Linked DNA regions of Homo sapiens. The protein of the gene in region 1 purifies or fractionates together with the protein of each later gene. This does not show direct contact. Each region holds a gene or a part of one and is shown in the gene's direction. Other genes may lie near its edges.

Region 1 (3,500 bases):
ACTTGGAGGCTGCAGTGAGCTATGATGGTGCTACTGCACTCCAGCTTGGGTGACAGACCAAGACCCTGTCTCAAAAAAAAAAAAAAAAAAAGAAAAGAAAAAGAAAATGAGGAGGGATTAGAGTGGGAGAAATGGGTCCATTAATAGCTCTTTTGTTTCAGAGTTGTAAAATCCTATTGTAGTACACTTCATTCACTCTAGGTTTTCCTGTTAGTGTATTAGAATTTCTTTCTATTGAAAATTACTGGCCGGGCACGGTGGCTCATGCTTGTAATCATCACTTTGGGAGGCTGAGGTGGGTGGATTACTTGAGGTCGGGAGTTTGAGACCAGCCTGGCCAGCATGGTGAAACTCTGTCTTTACTAAAAATACAAAAGCCGGGCATGGTGGTACACGCCTGTAGTCCCAGGTACTCAGGAGGCTAAGGCAGGAGAATCGCTTGAAACCAGTGCAGTGAGCTGAGATTGTGCCACTTGTTCAGACTGGGCGAAGGGCATACTGTGTTTCAAAAAATGAAAAAGAAAATTACTTGAAACAATAGGGAAATCAGCTGTTTTTTTTTCTTAATTAGAATTTGTGATGTCATTTTTAGTAACAATTTATTTTGTAGCTTAAAATTGGCCCTAACCAATTCTTTTTAAATATGCTCATAGTCCTATAAAATTTTTGTGCTTTAGAAAGATGAATATTCTTAGTATCTAGATTTTCCTGGAGACTTGTTTTCCTAGACTGGATCTTTTAACATGGTAGTTAACTAGGGTATAATAGGAGTATGTCTTATTTTTAAATTTTTCTGGCATTCTTTAGTTCAACAAACGTTTTAGTACCTCCTATGTGCTGAGTTCTTTGGATACAAGGGTGGTTAAACACAGACTTGTATTATTATTATTATTATTGTTAATTTATTTTTGGGACAGTCTTGCTCTGTCACCCAGGCTGGAGTGCAGTGGTGTGATCATGGTTCATTGCAGCGCTGACTGTGTATCTCCTCCAACTCTTAAATTATTCACGTCTCCTATCTGACTTCGCTTGGCACACCAATATCCTTGAGAAGCAATAATAGTTCTGCCAGTTGCTCTTCCTTGAGAGTTGTACCATTCTCTATATCTCAAAACATTCTTCACTTCAGACTATCTGTGATGTATTGCCCTTACAACCACCTGTATTGTGCATTTTTTTTAGTTCCATAGTCATTACTCATTAACACATCCCAAATAAAACTCAGCTTTCTTCTTTCTGTTCTCCCTCTCAGTAAATAACCTCATCTACACAGTTTTGTCCTTGACTGTTCTCCCCTTCACCTCTCACATCTAATCAGTCATGAAGTCTTGTCATTTTGATCTTCTAAATATCTTTCTAAGCCATCTGCCTTTCCTCATCCCCACTACCATTGCCTTAGTTCAAGCAACCATGAGTCTCTCCCTCTCTGGATTACTGCAGCTGTTCGTTCTTGGCCCTGCAGCCACTTTATTGGCTTAGAAAAGGCAAATTTCTAGTTGCGTTTGTCTGTCTTCAGGATAAATTTCAAACTCCTAAATTCTTTAGCATGGCTTATGCAGCCCTTTATGATCTGATCTGGTCTCTGTTTTTGTTTCTAAACTATTTAGACTCTACTCTCTGGTATTTGGGTTTCAATCATGCAGTGAACTACTGCTCTGTATAAAATATATCCTCTGCTAAGAACATATATCCTCTGCTTCCCTATACCCTCTACTAATTAAAATTGCCATTATTTAGATCTCAGTTTATATGTCGCTCTAAGTAAGTTTTCCTGATTCTCACTCTGCCTGAGCCTCCTAAATCTAGGTAAGATAGCATTTATTAGGGCTTGCTGTGGCAGCCTGTTGGTACAATTACATGTTGTAATTGTCTGTTTTCTTGTCATCCCATTAGATTGTAACTGCTGTGGAGGCAGTGACTGAATCTTACTTATTTACACCTAGTAGCTTGCTCTGTACCTGGCACATGGTAGGCGTTTACTGTATATTTATTGAAGAAGTAACTGAAAATGGTACCTCATTCAGGATTCTCTGCATTCCTCTATTACACTCTACTATATACATTGATTTACTGGCTTACATAATACTGCTAGTTTAGTCAGACACTTTTCCTTGTGTGTGTTTTTGCCACTGACACCTTTTATTTCCAGCATGTGGTTGGTGCTCATAAATGTGCTGAATGCATGAGTAAAGAAACTTCTAAATCAGATTAAGTGGAATGGAGAGTAGTTCAAAGAATTTGGGCAGGCTATTGCTTATGTTCTTTTCTGAAGGATTTAGTAGAAGTTATTTGCAGAGAGAAAGGATAAAAGGGTGTTCCAGGTAGATGGAACAGAATACACCTGAAAAAAGGTACAAAGCTTTTGGGTAACAGAGTTCACAATGGCCCAAGGCAGAAATGTTTTATGTGTTGGGGAGTATCAGGAAGTATAGCCTCACTGTAGAGGTAAAGGGTGAAGTCAGAAGATTTTTAAGCCCCTGTGTGGTATAACCAGATGGACATTTTGTAAAGGTTAGTTTGGGCAGTGGTTATACATTATGCACCTTAGGCAGATTATTGGAAGGTGACTAGATCAGAAGAAGAGAGATCAGAATGTTATTTTAGTGACTTAGGCTAGAAATGATAAGGGGCCAGTGTCAGAGGAGAAGGTTCGAGGGACTTAGGTTATAGGGTCTGGATGGTGAAAGAAGCATTTAGAATAAGTGGGTGGATGAGATATCTTTGACAGAATTGGGAATATAGAAGAAGAGCAGGTTTAGATAGAACACATGAGATTAAGATGCCTTATTGAAATGGAGATACCAAGTAGGTGCTTAGATATTTGGGTGTGGAGCCCATTAGGATGCTCAGTCTCGCATTTCCTGGGGATGCTTTCTGGAACCATATGCTCAAATTATCATCTGTATGCCAAATAGTTTTGAAAGAAACTGAACTTTTGTACCTTTTTTGGTTGTTATATTAGCCTGTAAGTTCACATAATTGCTAAAGTTAAGAATGCATGTTGTGTATGATAGGTGATGGGTTTCCAAGTTTGGAGAATGATTTAGGGCAATAATTTTACCCTGAACTTACTGCTACATTTAAAATATTTGGGTTGAATTTTTCCTTTATCTTCCATTTTTGGAAATAAATAAAAATTATAATAATCATAATATAAGTAAAAATTCAGTATTAAGTGTAGGGACAGTATAAAAAATTACTACTGTATTGTGAAACTTCCTTATTTTTTCCAGCTCTTTGTGTCAGGAAGGATGTTCTTGAGTTGGATTGTGCAAAAGTTCATTCTGTCTAAAAGTTGAATTTATCTGTTTTTCTGCCTCATTTTTGCTTTTTAATTAAAACTTTTGCTAAATTAGAGGTGAGAAAATTTATTCTAAAATGTTTGCTGTGGTCACCAGAACTCTTTTAATAAGGTATATCTGACATAGCTCCTTTGCTAGAGGAGAAAAACAAAATACAGTTTCTGTTGCTTTCAGCAGGCCATCATTGGAAGTTTTATA
Region 2 (3,500 bases), on another chromosome or scaffold:
TTTTTTTGGACACCAATGAATGAATTCGGATGTGAATATGTTTACTTCATTTAGCGGTTGCTGTAAAAGCTGATTTTTGGGTGACAGGTTTGAGATTGTTATGAATAAAATGAGTCATGAATGAACCACTTGTTTGTGATTTTCTTGCTGAAGTGATGAACTTGCATATTAATGTGATATAGCATGAGTAACCAGATTGTTCTTTTGGTGGTGCAGGATGAGATATATGCTGGCAATGAGAGGCAGCTTAAGATCTAATGAATAGAATTTGAGACCTATAATCTGAACATAGGGGTTTACTAGCTGGCTTGGGTCTGCCTACTGGTCTGATTTGTATACAGAAGAATTGAATTTATTCAACTATTTTCATTATACGTATACATATATTTATAGTGCAGTGGTGATGATAATAATGGTTAACATTTATAGAGTGCCTGTTATGTGTAGGTACTATTCTGGGTGCTTTTATATGAATAATCTCATTTAGTCCTCATACAACCCCAAAGAGGTAGGTACTCTTATGATTTCCATTTTACAGAAGAGGAAATCAAGATTTAGAGAGTTTGAGTAACTCACTCAAGGATAATTTAATTTAATATAAAAACAGTGGAGCTAAGATTCAACTAGAGGTGTTGATGACCATAACCCATGCTCTAGAACCTCTGTGCCATATTGCATCCTCCATGTTGAGGTTTACCATTTCCTCTGATAAATACTTTTAACTTCTGTCTTGCTCCCTATATAAATGTTACCTATATTAATAAGAAGCTGGCCAGGCACAGTACTCATGCTTATAACCCCAGTATTTGGGGAGGCCAAGGCGGGAGGATTGCTTGAGCCCAGGAGTTTGAGACCAGTCTGGGCAACGTAGTGAGATCTTGTCTCTACAGAAAAACCAAAAAATAATTAGCCAGGTATGGTGGAGCATGCCTGTAGTGCCAACTACTTGGGAGGCTGAGGTAGGAGGATCACTTGAGTCCAGGAGGTCAAAGCTGTAAGTGAGCCATGATTGTGCCACTGCACTCCGGCATGGCTGATAGAGCAAGACTCTGTCTCAAATAATAATAATAAACAAGAAGCTACTATGTTAATGATTTTATTAATATTTATTTACATATGTTTACCTTGCCTCATTTCACAGAAGATTTGAGGTGACCCCTTAGGCAGAAGCAACATTTATTAAAAGATAAGTATTTTTCTTTGCTATATTAGACATTCTTGAAGAGAGTTTTAAAATGTAATTGGATTGTTTATTTAAGTATGTTTTTAGAGTGCATATAACTCATTTATAGAGGTGTTAAGTGAAAACTGTACTAGTTGCTAATACGCAGATGTTTTAAAATGACACGCTTGTTAGAAATATTAGTTTTTCAATGCTAATTATATAGGCAGAAGAGTCCACATTATTTTATTCTAGTCTGAGTGGTAAATAGACTCTCAATTCTGCACAAATAGAAAAAGTTTTTTGATTAATGGGGACGAAATAAAATATTTTTAAAAAGTGATTATGCTGATATTTTTCAAGAAATTGCTTCTAAGTATTATAGTTATTAGATAAATGGTGCTTACAATTAAAATGTCATAATTATTGAGAACCATACTTCATAGTTCCCAAGGTCTATAAATAAAGTGTCAAAACATGAACTTTTCTTCATGCAACAATGAATTGGTAGAACTTGAAATCACAAAAATATTTTTGCTGAATTAACATTATATAATATACTTTTAGGTTATCACAAATTCACAGTTGGTGGTACTTAATTACTACCATCAAATGAATTCCTTTTTTATTAGTAATGTCTGAGAGCAATATAACTAAGATAACTAGACTGGATAGGATATCTCTGTTTTGGAATTTACTTATGATTAACAGTTATCCAAAAATGCACTTGATTTAACTTCTTTAAGAATGAAGTTGGGCAGTCACCCAGAACCTTGGAGGAATGGAAACTTAATGTTTAGCTGGATTAGAGGGTAGGCTATTGGGTTCTCTATCAATGGAGTATACATTTAGAGTGTTAGGTATTCTTCTTAGGTAGTACCTTTTGCTATGGCTAGTAAGTTAAATTATGAAGTTTTATTTATTATTGTCATTTATTTTAGAGGGACTTCAAGTATCTAGAAAGAAATAGATTATTTTTTTCCTCTGCTACCAGAGCCAAGTCAAGAGAGTCCCAAGCTCATATGCTATATAGAATGATCCAATTTAATTTTCTGCATGGCCAAAGTTTTGCAATTTATCCTAGTCCAAGTTTGCATTGCAGTTTCTCACACTCTCTGCATTGATTTAAAAATTCTTATGGATTATGTCATACTAAATACATTTTATAAAGTAGACGGAAAAAAGGGGCCAACATTTGCTTAGCCATTATGGGGTAGCAGACATGGATTCTGCTAGATACTTTTCATACCTTCTATTCCTTACCTGTTTCCATATCCCCATGTCAATAGGGGAGAAAATTCAGGGTTGGAGAGACAAGTCATTCACCCAGGATCGTATAGCTAGCAAGCAGCCAAGCTGGGATTCAGTATGACTCCTCCTGGAACTCTTGAGAAATATGGACACATAAAACCAATGAACATGTATTTATTGAGTTCTAAGTTTACTGGGTAAGAATATACAAGAAAATATGAATACATAGAAGCTTATGTATGTATAAAAAGAGAACTGACAGGATAAAGTATGAGACAACTTTCAAATGCACATGTAAAATGAAGGTAGTCAGATATAATGCAAACTAATCAGGATAAAAAATTATAGTATGTCAATTTATTTTTACAAAAATCCCTGAAAAACTACAGTTCTGAAATTGAACTGAATATAAGTGGAAAGTAGACAATATATGCATTTCCAGTGTCATCTGGCAGCCCATATCATTTTAGCTCAAGCCTGCATGTACTGAAGTATCTATGTCAAAGCAGGAAGGTGGTGATCTGTGTCTCAGTTTCTGAGTTGACAACAAGGCATTGAATTTAGACTGTGACTTTATCACAAAGAGATACTGTATATTGGAGAGGGCCCTAGAGAAGAGCAGCAAGGAAAAAAAAAGAGATTGGAGAGATTAAAAATATAACTGGATGCAGTGAAGGTTAATTGAGAGTGGGATGGATCAGATCAAGTATTTTATAAGGACTTCCAAGGCACTAATACTTAAGGGAGGTGAATTCTATTTTCCTTTTAAAGAATAAGTCATTTAGTTAAAGGAGTAGAATAAGTCAAAGACACAAATGTCAGGGAAAATGTCCTAAAGGCAAACCTGAAAATGGAATGAATTGTTTAGAATGGGAGGAGGGTAAAGGAGTTGACACTAAATGATTTGCATTTCATGAATTAAAAATCATTTCCAACAAATTAGAGGGTTCATTAATACCATATTAATTACTCTCTCTCTCTCTCTCTGTGTGTGTGTGTGTGTGTGTGTGTGTGTGTGTGTGATCATAGGTAGCTTAGCTTTTCTTCCTTTAATAGTAGCAAGACTGGCATTTGATGACATTATTAT
Region 3 (3,500 bases), on another chromosome or scaffold:
CGTTTTTTTCTTGGCTCTGCGGATGGCAGTCTCAGTGGTTAACAGCATAAAATAGGGTTCTTCCCAGGCTGGCTCAAGTTTTTTCTTTCTGTCTTTTGATGAGGACGTGGTTTTCAGGCTGGTGCTGGTGTACTGGAAATTCTAGGGGTGGTACCTAGAACTAAAAGTCTTTTAGTTCTGAGGGAAGGGAAACTGGAAGATAAATTAAGTATATCATTTTTGCTGCATATCCTGGGGCTTGAGGCCCCATGGTGATGCCTCCCGCTCCATTCCTGCTCAGCGCCGCCCAGGGGACACTGCGGCCCTGCCTCCTCTTAAGCTCTTGGCCTTCTTGGGGCCTTCACTGCCCCTGTGCACTGTGGCCTTGGACATGAGGGGCCTTGTGACTTACCTGGCCACCTTCAGGCCTTAAGAAAGCTAAACACCATTTTATATTTGACAGTGCTTTTTGTATGATTTTATACCAGATAAGTTAAATTTTACCTTTATACTAATGTGCTATTAATGTTAAACTTAATAAAATCTTTTTTTTTTTTTTTTGAGACAGAGTCTTGCTCTGTCGCCCAGGCTGGAGTGCAGTGGCGCAATCTCAGCTCACCGCAAGCTCCGCCTCCCGGGTTCACGCCATTCTCCTGCCTCAGCCTCCTGAGTAGCTGGGACTACAGGCGCCCGCCACCATGCCCAGCTAATTTTTTGTATTTTTTAGTGGAGATGGGGTTTCACCGTGTTAGCCAGGATAGTCTCGATCTCCTGACCTCGTGATCCGCCCGCCTCAGCCTTCCAAAGTGCTGGGATTACAGGCGTGAGCCACCGTGCCCGGCCAAACTTAATAAAATCTTGTAGACATTATTTATTCAATTTTAATGTCTGACTATAGGGTAAGATTTTTATAGACTCTTTTTAAGCTTTTATAATTTTTGTTAAAGAGCGGGTTAGTGCTTTAAGAAAAATCTATTGTGCTTTTAACATCCAGTTCACAGAAAAACTGCATGATACCCCTTTAGCTTTAGCCAATATGTTTACACACAGAATTTCCTTTACAATTAACATTTTAAAACTTGCTTAAACCTTTAAAACAAAATATATTTTTTAACCTTTTAATGTAGGTAAAAATCCATATTATGTCTCCTTATAATCCTGTTATTAAAAGTATTATTTTATTTTTCTGACATACCTTGTATATAAACTGTTTTTTTTTAAATAATTTTACATTCAGGAGGCCTAATTACTTTTAAATTATACACTATTTCTTGCATAAATTCCCTTTTATAGCTTTTCTTACAACTTTCACAATCTTCAACATGTCTTAACTTTCTGCCTGCCTTTTACGCTATTTCTTTTTCTCAGTTTCACCCTCTATGTCTTCCTTTGATTTCTGTCTCTTCCAGTTTCTCTCTTATTCTTTCCCTCTGTATTTTAATCTCTTTCTGTCTCTTCTCTCTCTTCACTCTCTTCATCCCCTGCTTCCTTCTTCCCTCCTGAGTTCTCCCGCTCCTGCAGCAGCAGGGCCGGGCAATGGCACCAGCCCCTGGGCATGCACTGCCGTCAGTTTCTCTATCCACCCCCACCATTCCCCTTTTTACTTTTTTTCCCCTTTCTTCCTACACTTAGTTTCTCGGGCTGGGTGGGATTTGCATGGCTGCAGTCCGGCCCCGGCAGCCCAGAGGCTTGGCAGATGCCTGCCACAAATTGCAAGAATTATGCCCTCTCACCTCCTCTGCTCTCTTCCTGGCGCCGCTGTGCTTGCTGTTTTTGCTTTCTTTTTTTCTGACTTCCTCTCCTAGTTCTTTTTCCTGTCTGCTGGTCTTTCCTTTGTCTCTGCCAGCCACCTATGCTGCTGTTTTCCCCCCTCTCCTTCCCCTTCCCCTGGGGGACCAACCAGCGGGAGTGAAGCTTAGCCTTTTTCTTTCCCTGTGAAGAGGGGAAAAGGGAGTTTTGAATATATATATATATATATATATATATATATATATATATATATATATTTTAACTACTGGAGGTTTGTGTGAGGTTCAACCCCCTGAAATTAATGGAAGACTTAACCCCTCAAACCAGGGGTGTCTTGCCTTGCCTGCCCTGGGAGGTTGACCTGTTTCCTCCTTTCCCCCCAAAGGTCCCTTGCATACTTCCCACTTGTGTTGTCCTCTCTGGTCGCCCCCCCAAGGGAGAATTAGGCCCCTCTTAGTGTAGGCGTGCTGGTATAAATCCCACAGCAGGACCTGCCCTAAGCCATATGAGGTCACTACAGAACCGGAACCATGGAGGGGACCCACTCACTGTCCAGCAGGAGGACTTGTCACCGTCCACACAAACCACACTGCAAGCAGGGTTGTCTGTGATCATTCACACATACACACATTCAGCCCTCCAGAATTTCACCACCAAGGAAGTACTTTACCAGCTTCTGTGGCTTCTCCTTCCTTGGTCTGTGCACAGAGTTGCAGCCCTGGTATGTGAGCATCCTTTACCTTAGGTTGCTGGCCAGTTTCTTTTTTTTTTTTTTTTCTGCATTGCTGAGAGTCCGGGTTTATTCGTCACACCAGGTGGGTCTCAATTTCTCATCCCTGAGGCCACTGCAGTGAGGCAGAGGAGCGTGCTCCCTCATGAGAGAGGAACAGAGACCGCCCCCGCAGGAGAATGTAGCCCTGTACGGATTGCCACCAAATTGTTTGAAATGCTTGTTCCCCGGTGCCGTAAAGAAACAGCAGTTGAACATAAATTTAATTTACTCAGCAAGGACATTTTTACTTCCTGCAGAAAGGACACACTTGCCATCAGCTTTGCCACAAGAGTTCACCCAACAAAGGAAACAGGGTCATTTATAACCTGACGCGTCCACCCTATTGCCGTCTCTGGTTTCCATTGACTGGGATGGGACCTCACATTCTGTATCTGTCCCGATTGGCTAGCAACGTACAACTTTTTAAAAGAGGCAAAGGCAGAGGAGAACAAAGGAAGGAAGTAATTTGTGGAATGCTGAGAAAGGTAAAAACACCTTCAAATAAGGAAGAGGAACAGGCTATGACCTAATGCCCGCTTGGACCAGTATAAGCATGCCAGGGCAAATATTTAGGCTAAATTGTGGGAGCTAAGAACCTAAAGTAGTACATTGCTTTCTTTATTACTGCTAGCAGATATTTAATAATGTTAGCACAGGTCTTTGAATAAATTTTGCTTCTAAGAGAAGTTACTATTTATTCCTAATTAGATCGGTAGGAAAGTCTTTGAAGAGGAACCTCTACTTTACAACTAAACATCTAGAGGCTCGGAATGCCTCTTTCTGGGGATGCAGCCCAGCAGGCCCCAGCCTCATTTCCCAGCCCTCACTCAAAATGGAGTCGCTCTGGTTCCAGCGCCTCTGACACTGAGAGGTCATGTCAGGAATGGGGAAACTGAGGCTCAGAGGAGCTATGGCACTGCACAAAGCTACACGGCTCCCTGGTCTTCTGTTTCTGTTGAGTCATGTGAACCAAAAAGTATCGGAGATATGTCTCAGTCAA
Region 4 (3,500 bases), on another chromosome or scaffold:
GACACCCCAGGGGGGCTGGGAAACGACCAGAATCCAGGTTCCCAGGTTGGTTGGAACAAGGACTTGTCCTTCTTTCCGTGTGCTGCTGATGCCCAGGGTCTGGGACAAACTCAAGGATTCTGGGATTCTCAGCATCAGGCCGGGAGGGTGAGAGAGGACCTCTCATTATCCCTGGAGTCATCTTTGTCTAAGGGGAGAACGGCCTCAAGAGGCGAGATTCCAGATTAGTACCCAGACCTGGGAGGAATTAATGGAATGCTTGTCCCTGGGCGCCTTAGAAACAGACCCCAGCTTATCTAAGGCTGCTCCGAGGCAGTGACCCAACTAGGGCTCAGGAAGTCAGAAGATAGACCAGCTAATAGTGATCACCTCTTGACCTTTGTGTCACGTCTTTTGCTTTTTAAAACCCTTTTGTGAACGTTATGGCCTTTGATCTGACGGCATCCTAGTTGTGAAGGGAACAGGGCAGGTATAATGTTCGTTTACCAATACAGAAATCGAGACCCAGAGATCACAAATTCTGGAGAGGCTCTGGGCTCTCCAGAGTCACTCAGCTGGAACTGACAGGGCTGGAATTAGATCCCTGGCCAGGCCAAGGGTGCATTCCTCTGAGTTTTTTCAGATCTGCTAGGAAGTGTACAGTCCGATACACCCTCCTATTTTGTTAGCTGTGGTCTACACAGCCTAGTATACATAGACCTTTCAGCAGGTCGGGTCAGGCATAGGAAGGCCTGGTCCTTCTACACAGCACTTGTTGAGGAAGGCCATCCAGGTACCTGAGGGGTTGACTGGTTCTGCCTGAACCAAGATAAGAGGTAGGGAGCAGCGATGGCTGGGAATTGCAGTGTCCAGACATTCTCACAGTGGGGATCACCTTCAAGAAGGATGGCATTCCTTCTTGAAGTGGCTTTCCCTCCCAGGAGGCTAGGAGGGCCTGGGGACGTGTCTGCCAGAATCACCTGGGTGGGAAGGGGGTCATGTTCAGCATGTGTGTGTGTGTGGTACATGTCTGTTCTGTGTGGTGAGGAGTGCCCCATCCCAGATGGGAGCCTCTGCTTGCAGGGAGACTGGCCACTTGACCTGGGCAGGTGAGTCTTCACTGGCCTTTCGATGTAAGCAAATTAAAGTGGCTCCATAGAGACCCACCCCATCTGCAATCACAGTGGTACATTCCTGCAGTTCTGCCCCTTCTCGGGGGGCCTTGTGGGTGGGTAAGCTGCTGCTGTCACATACAGAGCAAGGGTGGCCAGGAGTGCACCGCTAAGTGGTTTCTCATCTAGGTGGGCAGCTGTCTGACCAGAGGCTGCCGTGCTTACATCAGCAACAACAGCAGTCAACAGATTTGTCTAAAGTGTTTTTCGAGTGCTTTTCTGTATGTGGCTTAAAGGCCGAGGTGAGGCTGCCGGGCTGTCAAAGCCACTCAAGCAGACATCTGAGCAAATCTCTGACCAAGAACCCAGGCCATCGATCTGGTGGGATGGCCGCTCCACAGGAAGCTGAGGGTGGGGGAGTCACCTTTCCTCACTAGGAGCTGTTTGCTTCAGCAAAGCAGGATTTGAGGAGTTGGGGTCTGAAGGGGGAAAAGCTTGCTGAGGTGGAGGTGGCGATAAGCCTGGACTTGCCCTCACCTCACCCCACAGGCCAGGATTCGTCTTTGGGTTTCAGGGTGCATGTCTGTCTTAGCACTGACTGCGTGCCAAGCCCTGGATGTTGATCAGGCAGACACGGGCTCAGCCCTTGAGGCTCACAGTCCGGTGGGTTGCACAGGCAGCGGCAGCTGATCCCTCTTACCGGGTCTCCTTCTCGGGACTCCCTTCAGTCCACTTACCCCGTTTCTGCCCCCCAGGCCTTCTCTGGGCAGTGACTGTGAGGGCTGACAGGAAAGGCATGTGCAGCGTGCTTGTGAGGAGCTCAGCACAGAGGGTGGGGTGAGGGCATGTGTTGCTGAAGTCTGCATCCTGAGGTGCCTGTGGCAAACCACTCTTCCCTTCTGTCTCCTCAGTTCAGCCAGGCCCTGGCCATCCGGAGCTATACCAAGTTCGTGATGGGGGTAAGTTGTGCCAGCTGTCCTTCCTTCCCACTGCCTTGCGGACCCAAGCGGGGCCTAGGAGGCCAACCCTGGTAATGGCTGGAGGCAGGTCTTGGTACAGGGTGTTGGCGTGGTGTGTCCCTGCTCCCTGGGCCGGGGTGGGTCACTGGCACTCAGGCCTCTCTGGGTTTCAGATTGCAGTGAGCATGCTGACCTACCCCTTCCTGCTAGTTGGCGACCTCATGGCTGTGAACAACTGCGGGTAGGTGTGCGCCCCTCTACTTGCCACTCTACCTACCAAGGCTGTGGGGTGGGGGAGACCCACCGAGCCCTTCCAGCACTCTGCCCCCTCCCACCTGCTCTGTGTGTAGGCTTGGCCTGCCAGGCACCCTGGCTTCCGCTGGGATTTCCCAGCACCCCCTGGGGTAAACTGTGGTGTCAGGGGTCAGGGTGTGGATGGGTGGTAGCCTGAAGGCATTCCTTCTTGAAGTGGCTTTCCCGTGGCTGGCTGTCTTCCACTGTTCTCTGCATCTACACTCTCCTTCTCCGGCAGGCTGCAAGCTGGGCTCCCCCCTTACTCCCCAGTGTTCAAATCCTGGATTCACTGCTGGAAGTACCTGAGTGTGCAGGTGAGCAAGCACTGGACGGCGGAGGCCTTTCCTGTTCTTTGCTACATCCTTCAGCTGAAATGGTTTTGTGGATGCTTCATTGCATGCAAAGATAAGTGGTTTCATGGAATTCAATATTGTGAGGAGATACTTGGTATCTATAAGGCATTTAAGTTTTCATCTTACATAATTTCAGAAAGGATTTGAGGTGGCTAAGTGTGGGTTTATTTTAAGATTATACATCAGACAAGACCTTTTCTTCTTTGAGTCTTAAAGACTCTTAGGATAAGGATAAGAGAACTCTGGCCCAGGTGGCAGGTGGTAAAGCCCAAGAACTGCTTCTCCTTCAAGTAACATGGGCTGAAAATTCGAGGTCTGTAACCAGTTGAGCTGAGTTCCTGGGTTGTTAGGGCGGCTGGCATTGGAAACCGACTCCTCCCTCCTGCAGGACATTCCTGGGCCCAGGAGAGCCTGTGGGTGGGGCTGGGCCACGTGGGGAACTGGCAGCAGTACCAACCTTGGGTTCTCGTGTTCTGTACCGAAGCTACCTCTCCGTAGCTGGAGCTCTTGGGCCCAGCAGTCAGGGGTCCAGGCTTTGGCCGAGGGCAGAACCTTGCCTTTTCCTGGCCTTGATTTGCCTCGCAGTGAAATGGGGCAGTGGCCCGGAGGGAGCCAGAACTCTGAGTGGCCTCGAGGCTGAGAAGAGGACAGATGGGAGGGAAGCAGGGAGGAGAGCCGCAGTTCTTCCCAGTGGCCCTGGTCAGCGTGAGTGTGTCTCGTCCTCCCTATGAGCACTGAAAGAGTCCTAGACCACTTGGGCTCTGAAGCAAGAGGGGCAATGAGCCTCCTCTCTAGGGCTCTCC
Region 5 (3,500 bases), on another chromosome or scaffold:
GCATGAAAACAGGATAAATTAAGTGTGTTCTGAGAGTGAACAGCAGAGGTTAGCCTCTCCGTAGTGCAGATAGACAAACTGAGCCTCAGAAAAGCAAAGCAACTTGCCCACAGCCCCACAGCTAGGTAGCAGCAAAGCTTCACTGACCTTTCCCTGTCTGGGACCTGCCAGGGAAGCCCTGGAAGTCCCCAACACAGAGAAGGCCAAGACCTATGTGGAGGGTGTCATGGGGAAGAGCTTGGGTTTGGGGGCCAGGATTCAAGTATACTCGGCTGAAGACCTTGACAGGGAATCCCAGGGGCTTCCCCAGGACTTTTCTCCATCTGGAATGGGGCATCCAGAACTGAAGTGCGCGCGCGCGCGCGTGTGTGTGTGTGTGTGTGTGTGTGTCTGTCTGACTGTCTGTCTGTGTAGGCAAGACCTGGTTTCCAATCCCAGTTTTGTCACTCCCCCTCTGAGACACTCTCTCTGGCTCTCTGAGCCTCTATTTCTTTTTTCTTTATTTGTTTTCTTTCTTTCTTTCTTTCTTTCTTTCTTTCTTTCTTTCTTTCTTTCTTTTCTTTTCTTTCTTTCTTTCCTTTCTTCTTTCTTTCTTTCTCTTTCTTTCTTTCTTTCCCTTCCTTCCTTCCTTCCTTCCTTTCTTTCTCTTTCTTTCTTTCTCTCTTTCTTTCTCTCTTTCTCTCTTTCTTTCTCTCTTTCTCTCTTTCTCTCTTTCTTTCTTTCTCTCTTAGATGGAGTTTTGCTCTTGTCACCCAGGCTGGAGTGCAATGGTGCGATCTCAGCTCACTGCAACCTCTGCCTCCTGGATTCAAGGGATTCTCCTACCTCAGCCTCCCAGGTAGCTGGGATTACAGGCACACACCACCACGCCTGGCTAATTTTTGTATTTTTAGTAGAGACGGGGTTTCACCATGTTAGCCAGGCTGGTCTCGTACTCCTGACATCAGGTGATCTGCCCGCCTTGGCCTCCCAAAGTGCTGGGATAACAGGCATGAGCCATAATCGTGCCTGGCCTCTGAGCCTCTATTTCTGCATCTGTAAAATGGAGACAATGGTGATCAGACCTGTTTCATAGGATTGTTGTAAAGGTTCAGGGAGATACTGTGTGGGGGCACCTAGTGAGCATGAGTGCTAGAACTTGAGAATGACCTTAAAGGAGGCTTTAAACCCAGAGGGTCCAAGGGGCAGCCCTCTGGCCACCCCTGCCTCAGACGCACGTCTAAAAATATTAAATTGGGATGGTATGGTGGTTCATGCCTGTAATCCCACCACTTTGGGAGGCTGAGGCGGGTGGATCACTTGAGGCCAAAAGTTCGACACCAGCCTGGCCAACAAGGCGAAAACCTGTACTAAAAATACAAAAAATTAGCTGGGCATGGTGGTGCACGCCTGTAGTCCCAGTTACTTGGGAGGCTGAGGCAGGAGAATTGCTTGAAACTGGGAGGCAGAGATCGCAGGTTGCAGTGAGCTGAGATCACGCCATTGCACTCCAGCCTGGGTGACGAGTGAAACTCCGTCTCAAAAAAATAATAATAATAAATAAAAATAAAAAGATTAAATTGGCCAAAAATCAGGAAATTCCAAATACAAATCCAGATTTCTGGCTTTATTGAAAATTATGCACTCATTAATTCAACTAATACATCTCTGCAAGCTCCTTCTATGAACCAGTTTTCTTGCTAGTGGCCCGGGCAGCAGTGGCAGGGCTGCCCTCCATAGCTCTCCACCTCACCACGTTCACACAGTCCCCTGGCATCCAAGTCCCTTCCTGGCCCTGTGACCATCTGTCCTCAACCCTTTCCTCACCCTTACCCCCAGCAACTGACGAACCACATCCGGGACACACTGCCGGGGCTGCGGAACAAGCTGCAGAGCCAGCTACTGTCCATTGAGAAGGAGGTGGAGGAATACAAGAACTTCCGCCCTGATGACCCAGCTCGCAAGACCAAGGCCCTGCTGCAGTGAGGCTCCCCCAGCTCCTATCACTGAATCCCCGCCCCCAGCCTCTCAGCGTGGGGCTCTCCCAGGGTTCCCTTTGCTGGGCTGCTCCTGCCCCCTCAGGCCACACCACTCTCCCACCAGGATGGTCCAGCAGTTCGCCGTAGACTTTGAGAAGCGCATTGAGGGCTCAGGAGATCAGATCGACACCTACGAACTGTCAGGGGGAGCCCGCATTAACCGAATCTTCCACGAGCGCTTCCCTTTCGAGCTGGTCAAGGTAGGTCAGGCAGCCCTGGGGACAGGATGGCTCAGGACTCCCCCCACCCTCACTCAGGACTCTCTCTGCGTGTGTTTTTGCTGGCCCCCACCCCACAGGCCCTGATGCCCAGCCCTAGGTGTGGGGTGGGCCCTGTCTTGACCTCCCAGGTAGTAGGACAGGCCCTGACCAGGCTTTTCTCTGCTTTTCTACACAGATGGAGTTTGATGAGAAGGAACTCCGAAGGGAGATCAGCTATGCTATCAAGAATATCCATGGCATTAGGCACGTATTGGGGCCTGGGAGGGTGGCTGAACCCCAGAAGTAGGGGGTCTGGGACAGAGGCACAGGGAGTGATGAAGTGGGCCTCCCTCAGGAAGGACTGAAAGCTCTGTTCCCCAGTCCTCTCGACCCCAACTTTCTGGCTCCCTGCATGACAGGCTCCAGCTTGGGGAGGTGGACCCGGGCCACCCCGCCTACTGCAACTTGCTGGGCCAACTGGGCACAGCCCAGGGCGCAGGTGGCCGGGGAAACACCCTCTGGGGCTGGGCCCATCCCCAGGGTGAGATAGCTCCCCCAGTGCCACCCAGGTAACCGGACAAAGATGTCCAAACCACTACGAGGGCCTGGGGTGGAGCATCTAAGTATGAGGCTGTGTCCTTTTATGACGGCCGGGGACTTTGCAATCCTCCACACCCTCCTGTATTCACAGTAGCCCAGAGTCAGTCCCATTCCACCCCACCGCCCTCCTTCTAGGCAACCCGTGGAGTAGGAAACAGGATTGGGAGGTGGAATCTGTTCCTTAAAAGCTTAGATCCCCTTCAGGGACCCAGATCTATGCTGTGTTCATCCAACAAATCCACTGGGCCGGAAAATTTAAAGCACCTACCCTATGCCAAGCAGTGAACAAGACCCAGTGTCCCCTTGCTCTCATGCAGGTTCATTTCCAAGATTTGGCATGGAATTTACTTCCTGATAACTGCACTGGCCAATTCACAGAAAAAAGATCTCTTTCCTAGTCTTAAAACAAAACACTCTATTCCTGGAAAGGCTCTTATGGAGAACCACGTTTGGCAATTTTCAAGCCATTTCTGGCCATAGAACTTCCTATATGCACAGACCCTTACGAGGAAGCAGGACTTACATATCAGATACTCAACCACCTTGTCTTGCCCCAAAGAGCCTCATTAGGGCCGGGCGCGGTGGCTCACGCCTGTAATCCCAGCACTTTGGAAGGCCGAGGCAGGCGGATCATGAGGTCAGGAGATCGAGACCATCCTGGCTAACACGGTGAAACCCTGTC
Region 6 (3,500 bases), on another chromosome or scaffold:
AGGTCTCTCTATTTTGCCGTAGAACTGGAACTCCTGGGCTTCAGCAAACTTCCTGTTTCAGCCTTCTCAGTAGTTAGGAGTATAGGCATGTAGCACCACACCCAGCTCACCTTCCGTATTCTACTATCTCCATTTCAATTTGAGAATGACTACTTTGGATAAATCTGTAGGAATATTTATCAGTACTTCATTTACATGCCTGCCACTGTGTTTGTTCTTCTCTAAAAGCTTATCACAGAAAGGATGATTCATGAAATAAATTTCTCATTTCTTCTTAAGCTGCATTCCTCATCTTTCTTCCTTTTGGTAGGTCTTTCTAAAGGAGCAGGAACGACAGCACTTACAAGATCTGCTTCACCAAGAGGTGCTCCGCAGAATCATATTGTTGCAGCGATGGTTCAGGGTCTTGCTGTGTAGGCAGCATTTCCTCCATCTGAGACAAGCATCTGTTATTATCCAGGTGAGAAGCAAAGGATTCTTTGCATGAGATTGACTAGTTTATTTGGCCTTTGTTTAGTAACCAGAACCTTTTTACTGTAAAACATTTTCAGTAATAATGTGAACTTCAGAAATGAGAATATGTCGTACCCAATTTTGAAGTGCTCATAACACCCAACAGATTATCTGGCATATAATAGACTATTAATAAATATTGATTCCATTGAATTTAAATTAAATTGAATTTGTAGTTATAATGTCTTGTGAGATCTGTGTAGGGGCTAAGGAGTTACCTAATATTTGTTGACATAGTTGTTTTTATTTAATAGTTTTTGGAGTGATGTTTGAGAGTTGTATATATACCGTTGGTTTTAGACACTCATTTTGGATGATAGGTACCTTATTTTACATTTTATTTGTTTTATTAACTCCCTCATTGATTTATATCATTTCCATAAGATCTTTTCCATTTGTGCAAGAAAATCTTTAGTATCTTCATCTTTGGAATGTGTGTCAGGATTACCTTAAACCCATTAGTGTTATTTAGGAAAATTGTAACAAAAGAATATAATATGTTAAAGTTACTAATAATTTGAAGGACATGAAATCATCCAAAAATTTTAAATTAGGTTCTGTAATTAACTTCTTCAAGGTTATATTATTTAAAATAGCTGTTTTAGCCAAACATATCTGGAAGAGAAAACTTTTTTCTATTTATCTTTTTCAGGTACACTTTCTGCTTTTGTAGAAAACTAGTTTTTTTATTTTTATTTTTTTGAGACAGAGTCTCACTCTGTCACCCAGGCTGGAGTGCAGTGGCGTGAATTCTGCTCACTGCAAGCTCCAGCTCCCAGGTTCACGCCATTCTCCTGCCTCAGCCTCCTGAGTAGCTGGGACTATAGGCACCCACCACCACGCCCAGCTAATTTTTTTTGTATTTTTAGTAGAGACGGGGTTTCACCATGTTAGCCAGGTTGGTCTCTATCTCCTGACCTCATGATCTGCCTGCCTTAGCCTCCAAAAGTGCTGGGATTACAGGCATGAGCCACCGCACCTGGCCAGAAAACTTATTTTTAATCACCAAGAATTTAGCTGCATAGCCACTTAACCTGTAATTATGACATAAGAAATTTATTCTCTTTTTTTCCTGTGAAAATGCAGTGTAAGATATGACAACCAGTTTCTGTTATTTTGTCTTCCCCATAGAGATTCTGGAGGAATTACCTAAATCAGAAGCAAGTCAGAGATGCAGCTGTGCAGAAGGATGCTTTTGTTATGGCTAGTGCAGCTGCTCTTCTCCAAGCTTCCTGGCGTGCTCACTTAGAGAGGCAGCGGTACTTGGAGTTACGGGCTGCAGCCATCGTTATCCAGCAGAAATGGAGAGATTACTATAGGCGCAGGCACATGGCTGCTATTTGCATACAAGCAAGATGGAAAGCCTACAGGGAAAGTAAAAGGTACCAAGAACAAAGGAAAAAAATTATCCTTTTGCAATCAACATGTAGAGGATTCAGAGCAAGACAAAGGTAATCTCTATTACTATAATAATTGCTTTTTTTCTTCTTCCCAAGTACTTTGTTTATACCTCTGCATTAACACTTGTCTAATTTGTATTAGAATTGGTTGTATACAATTTGTCTTTTCCACTATACTGTGATACCGATTTTAACCCACATTGTATTGTCTATAATGGAAGTTAAATAAGGTTTTATTGAATTAAATTGGATTGAAAATCTACATGGTCTGTGATCATAACTGCTAAGAATTAACTTCTACATTAGGCTGAATCTTATAAAATTGGCAATATTCAACTGTTGTTACTTTCAGAAACTTTAATTTCACACTTAAATTAAAATTTCACTTTAATTTCACACTTAAAATTTCACTTTAATTTGAGGTTTACTTTAAAATAAAGGCATTATTAAAATGAGAGCTTTACTTCTGAATTAGTTTACATTTTGACTGAAATGCCTAGGTAGAAGTAATACACTTAATGAAATATCATCTGACTCATGGAAATAGGAAAATTATGAAATGTGCATTCAAGTTAGTTTAAGAAGAACTTAGGTATTATAAAAAGATTTTACAACTCTGCATTTTTTCTTAAATTCTCAGGAAATATGTTATTTTCAGTGGTAACTAAGATATTTCTATAACCCATTTTGTCTGTTTTTATATAGATTTAAAGCTTTAAAAGAACAAAGGCTAAGAGAAACAAAGCCAGAAGTTGGATTGGTGAATATTAAGGGATATGGATCTCTGGAAATTCAGGGTTCAGACCCTTCAGGATGGGAGGATTGTTCTTTTGACAACAGAATAAAAGCCATAGAGGAATGTAAATCTGTAATAGAGAGTAATCGAATTAGCCGTGAAAGTTCAGTGGACTGCTTGAAGGAGTCACCAAACAAGCAGCAGGAGAGAGCCCAAAGCCAGAGTGGTGTGGACTTGCAGGAAGATGTGCTTGTAAGAGAGAGACCCAGATCCTTGGAGGATCTCCATCAGAAAAAAGTAGGCCGGGCTAAGAGAGAAAGTAGGAGAATGAGAGAACTAGAGCAAGCTATATTTAGCTTAGAATTGCTGAAAGTTCGTTCTCTTGGTGGTATTTCTCCTTCAGAGGATCGCAGATGGTCTACAGAATTGGTGCCTGAAGGCCTTCAGTCTCCACGGGGTACACCTGATAGTGAGAGCTCTCAAGGAAGCTTGGAACTTCTGAGCTATGAGGAAAGCCAAAAGAGCAAACTAGAGTCTGTCATTTCAGATGAAGGAGACTTGCAGTTTCCATCACCTAAGATATCCAGCAGTCCAAAATTTGATTCACGGGACAATGCCCTCAGTGCCTCAAATGAGACTAGCAGTGCAGAGCATTTGAAGGATGGAACTATGAAGGAAATGGTGGTCTGCAGTTCTGAGTCTATTACCTGTAAACCACAGCTGAAAGACTCCTTCATTTCAAATAGTCTACCTACTTTTTTTTATATCCCCCAACAAGACCCACTGAAAACAAATTCCCAACTAGACACAAGTATCCAAAGAAACAAACTATTGGAAAATGAAGACACAGC
Region 7 (3,500 bases), on another chromosome or scaffold:
ATGTTGCTCAGGCTGGTCTTGAACTCCTAGGCTCAAGTGATCCTCCTGCCTCAGCCTCCCAAAATACTAGGACTATAGGCATAAGCCACTGTGCTCAACCTCAGCATATGTTTTTTGAGACATAGAAGTAACAAGCTTAGTAGAGGTAGTCTGTAGATAAATGAAGTACTTACCAAGTCTCAAAGATTTTAAACCACTAAAAGCCTGTGAAATGCTTCTATAGTTTACAGGGAAGCTGTGAATTCAATATAGATGAATAGGGTTTTAACATTTTAGCTAAAACCCATCTCTGTTTGGATTCAACTGGAGTCCAGAGGTATTTATTCTCTTTTATATTCTCCAGGGCACCAAAATTCTGAATTGCAGTTCTTTGGAGATTACTTTAGAAGTTAAATACAGGCTGGGCACAGTGACTCACGCCTGTAATCCCAGCACTTTGGGAGGCCGAGGCGGGCAGATCACCTGAGGTGAGGAGTTCTACAATAGCCCGGCCAACATGGCGAAACCCCATCTGTACTAAAAATACAATAAAAAATTAGCCAGGTATGGTGGTGGGTGCCTGTAATCCCAGCTCCTCAGGAGGCTGAGGCACAAGAATCGCTTGAACACGGGCGGCAGAGGTTGGCAGTGAGCTGAGATCATGCCACTGCGCTCCAGCCTGGGCGACAGAGCAAGACTCCGTCTCAATAAAAAGAAAAAAAAAAAAAGAAGAAGAAGTTAAATGCAACCCAGTTCCAGGTTTGTCAGAATGAAAGAAGAAAAATTCTGACTTGGTCTATAGTATTAACCAGGGACTTGAGCTAGCAAAGAGCAAATTTATTAATTTAAAGAAGAGACTATTTCATAATAATTTTCCTAGTTGGAAATCTTTAAGGGGTATAATTTTACTTTTAAGGGAAATTAAAACCAAATGATTCTGGGTTAATATGAAATCTCAAGTTCTTGCTTGATTTCCTTAGCGCCAGCAGAGACTTCAGAAGGAACGCCTCATGAATGACTTCTCTGCAGCCTTAAACAATTTCCAGGCTGTGCAGAGAAGGGTATCTGAAAAGGAAAAGGAGAGTATTGCCAGAGCAAGAGCTGGATCTCGTCTTTCTGTAAGTTGATTCCCAAAAGAAGACCTTTGCAATATCAGAATGTTCTTTTCCAAGTTTGTGGGTTTTTTTCTTTTTCTCTTTGACCAATAAACATGTAAGTTAGCTGCTGTGAAAATGGCAGGTTGGTGTAACCTATGTAAAAAACATATATGCATGTGATCAAAGCCTAGAAAGGAATCTGAATGAAGGTTAAGAGATATAGGAGGAAGAACTATGTCTAATTTTCTTTTTCATTTTGATATATTGGTTTTAACGTTAAAAACTTGAAAATAAAAATAATGAATCTGTTTCCTGGAATATAACAGGCTAGTTTATTTGGACTAGCCCTCTGTTTTTGAAAAGGATTTTCAAATACTGGATTTTAAAAATCCAACTTCTCAAAAGTATCAAAGATTATGAAAATATTAAGGTAAAGCCTGAGAGGTCAGCAGAATACTGAAACTGCTTTTGCATTGAATGTCTTTACTGAAGGCAAACTTGAACTTCAGTTTTGATATCCTCATGGCATGGGGAGGATAAAAGTCAAAGCCAAAGGTCCATGCAAGAGAGAGAATATAAAAGAAGGTACAACTCAAATTAAACTGGGCCCTAAGAGACTATATCCTTAGAACATTAAGTCAAAAGTAAGCTCTTCTATCCCCCGGCAGATTACAGAAAGATTGCATTAGCACTGAACTGAGCAGATGGAGGAGGAGGGCAGGAGGGAGGAGAAATCTAGACAAGGTTACCACAAAGTAACCTTCTTCAGGCAGATTTTCTGCTCAAATTCATCCTACCTGAATGGTTCAGTGGTCCTGGACTGGGAGAGCCACCTATGTGTGGGATAGAAGCAAACACAAATTCCTTCTGTAGAAAGACACCTTTATCCTAGCCCTGAAATAATACTCTCAAATAATTTTTCTAGGGCAGTAAGTACCAGTCACTAAAAATAACCATGTGTGCAAAGAAACAAATTACTCTGAACAAGAATTAGTAGAAACAACAATGAAGTGAAATATACCTACAAAGACTTTTTATATTAGAATTATAAGACAACTATACTTATTGTGTTTAAAGACATAAAAGGCTGAAAACCTCTGCAGGAAACTACACAAAGATTTGAAAAAGTGTCAAAAGAATTTCTAAAATGGAAAGATATAATATAGAAATTTAAAAACTTAGTGGATGGGTGGTTTAACTAAAAAATTGGTTAGAATATATTATCCAGCATGTAGCATAGGGGGTTAAGAGGTTAAATACGGAAGAAAGATTATGAAAAATGGAGAATGGAGAGAAAAGATCTAACGTAGTTTTAACTGGAGTTATAGAGTGAGAATAGGGCAAACATAGAACAGAGGTGATATTTGAAGAAATAATGAGTGATAATATTCTAGAACTGATTAAAAACACTAGCCTGCAGTTTCAAGAAGCCTAACAAATCCCAAGCAGGATAAATAAAATCTCTAATCTAGATACATCAAAGACAAACTTCAGACCAGAGACAAAGAGAAAAATCATAAAGATAGCTAGAGAAACATTAGAATACCTTCAAAGATACAATAGTTAGATTGACAGTTGACTTCTCAACAACAGTGGAAGCCAGTAGAGTGCTATCTTGAATGTTGATGAAGGACAATAACTGCCTACCTAGGATTCTAAACCCAGTGAAAATATATGTCAGAATGAGGGCTAATTAAAGACATTTTCAATCAAAAGAGAGTTTTCTGTCAGCACATCTTATTGAAGGAAATTCTAAATAATGTATTTCAGATGGAAGGAAAGTGATCTCAGATGGAAAGTCTGAAAAGCAGAAAGAAATGAAGAACAAAAAAAGTGGTAAAGATGTGAAAAGACTAGTCACAGGGAGAAGACATTGCTATATATATTTAATAGCAAAGGACTAGCATTTAGAATATATAAAGAATTCGGCCAGGCGTGGTGGCTCACACCTGTAATCCCAGCACTTTGGGAGGCCAAGGTGGGCAGATCACGAGGTCAGGAGTTCAAGACCAGCCTGGCCAACATGGTGAAACCCTGTCTCTACTAAAAATACAAAATTAGCTGGGCGTGGTAGCGCGTGCCTGTAATCCCAGCTACTCTGGAGGCTGAGGCAGGAGAATCGCTTGAACCAGGGAGACAGAGGTTGCAGTGAGCTGAGATTGTGCCCCTGTGCTCCAGCCTGGGCGACACAACAAGATTGTATCTCAAAAAACAAAAAACAAAACAAAAAAAACCCCAGAATTCCCATGAATCAATATGAAAAAGAAAGATACAACTCAATAGAACAAAAGTTGTCAAACTTTTTAATCTCAGGAACCCATTACACTCTTAAAAATCATTAAATTCTGTGGCCGGGCGCAGTGGCTCATGCCTGTAATCCCAGCACTTTGGGAGGCCGAGGCGGGTGGATCACCTGAGGTCAGG

What was found.
Region 2: the proteins of TBC1D15 (region 1) and DNM3 purify together in Homo sapiens (affinity purification with mass spectrometry; one large-scale study listed by BioGRID and IntAct). This does not show direct contact.
Region 3: the proteins of TBC1D15 (region 1) and THEM6 purify together in Homo sapiens (co-immunoprecipitation; 2 studies listed by BioGRID and IntAct, with this or other methods). This does not show direct contact.
Region 4: the proteins of TBC1D15 (region 1) and MTCH1 purify together in Homo sapiens (co-immunoprecipitation; one large-scale study listed by IntAct). This does not show direct contact.
Region 5: the proteins of TBC1D15 (region 1) and DNM1 purify together in Homo sapiens (affinity purification with mass spectrometry; 2 studies listed by BioGRID and IntAct, with this or other methods). This does not show direct contact.
Region 6: the proteins of TBC1D15 (region 1) and MYO9A purify together in Homo sapiens (co-immunoprecipitation; 2 studies listed by BioGRID and IntAct, with this or other methods). This does not show direct contact.
Region 7: the proteins of TBC1D15 (region 1) and STX12 purify together in Homo sapiens (affinity purification with mass spectrometry; 4 studies listed by BioGRID and IntAct, with this or other methods). This does not show direct contact.

What each region holds. Positions count from the first base shown.
Region 1 is NC_000012.12:71,842,759-71,846,258, forward strand, and holds part of TBC1D15 (TBC1 domain family member 15), read left to right. Parts: intron 1-3,500. UniProt on the Homo sapiens protein: Acts as a GTPase activating protein for RAB7A. Does not act on RAB4, RAB5 or RAB6.
Region 2 is NC_000001.11:171,844,498-171,847,997, forward strand, and holds part of DNM3 (dynamin-3), read left to right. Parts: intron 1-3,500. UniProt on the Homo sapiens protein: Microtubule-associated force-producing protein involved in producing microtubule bundles and able to bind and hydrolyze GTP. Most probably involved in vesicular trafficking processes, in particular endocytosis.
Region 3 is NC_000008.11:142,730,223-142,733,722, forward strand, and holds part of THEM6 (protein THEM6), read left to right. Parts: intron 1-3,500.
Region 4 is NC_000006.12:36,969,197-36,972,696, reverse strand, and holds part of MTCH1 (mitochondrial carrier homolog 1), read left to right. Parts: coding exon 1-45; intron 46-2,002; coding exon 2,003-2,050; intron 2,051-2,223; coding exon 2,224-2,291; intron 2,292-2,582; coding exon 2,583-2,658; coding exon of another isoform or gene 2,659-2,844; exon of another isoform or gene 2,845-3,500.
Region 5 is NC_000009.12:128,220,379-128,223,878, forward strand, and holds part of DNM1 (dynamin-1), read left to right. Parts: intron 1-1,818; coding exon 1,819-1,961; intron 1,962-2,082; coding exon 2,083-2,218; intron 2,219-2,414; coding exon 2,415-2,482; intron 2,483-3,500. UniProt on the Homo sapiens protein: Catalyzes the hydrolysis of GTP and utilizes this energy to mediate vesicle scission and participates in many forms of endocytosis, such as clathrin-mediated endocytosis or synaptic vesicle endocytosis as well as rapid endocytosis (RE).
Region 6 is NC_000015.10:71,898,151-71,901,650, reverse strand, and holds part of MYO9A (unconventional myosin-IXa), read left to right. Parts: intron 1-310; coding exon 311-460; intron 461-1,644; coding exon 1,645-1,964; intron 1,965-2,618; coding exon 2,619-3,500. UniProt on the Homo sapiens protein: Myosins are actin-based motor molecules with ATPase activity. Unconventional myosins serve in intracellular movements. Regulates Rho by stimulating it's GTPase activity in neurons.
Region 7 is NC_000001.11:27,800,719-27,804,218, forward strand, and holds part of STX12 (syntaxin-12), read left to right. Parts: intron 1-959; coding exon 960-1,097; intron 1,098-3,500. UniProt on the Homo sapiens protein: SNARE promoting fusion of transport vesicles with target membranes. Together with SNARE STX6, promotes movement of vesicles from endosomes to the cell membrane, and may therefore function in the endocytic recycling pathway.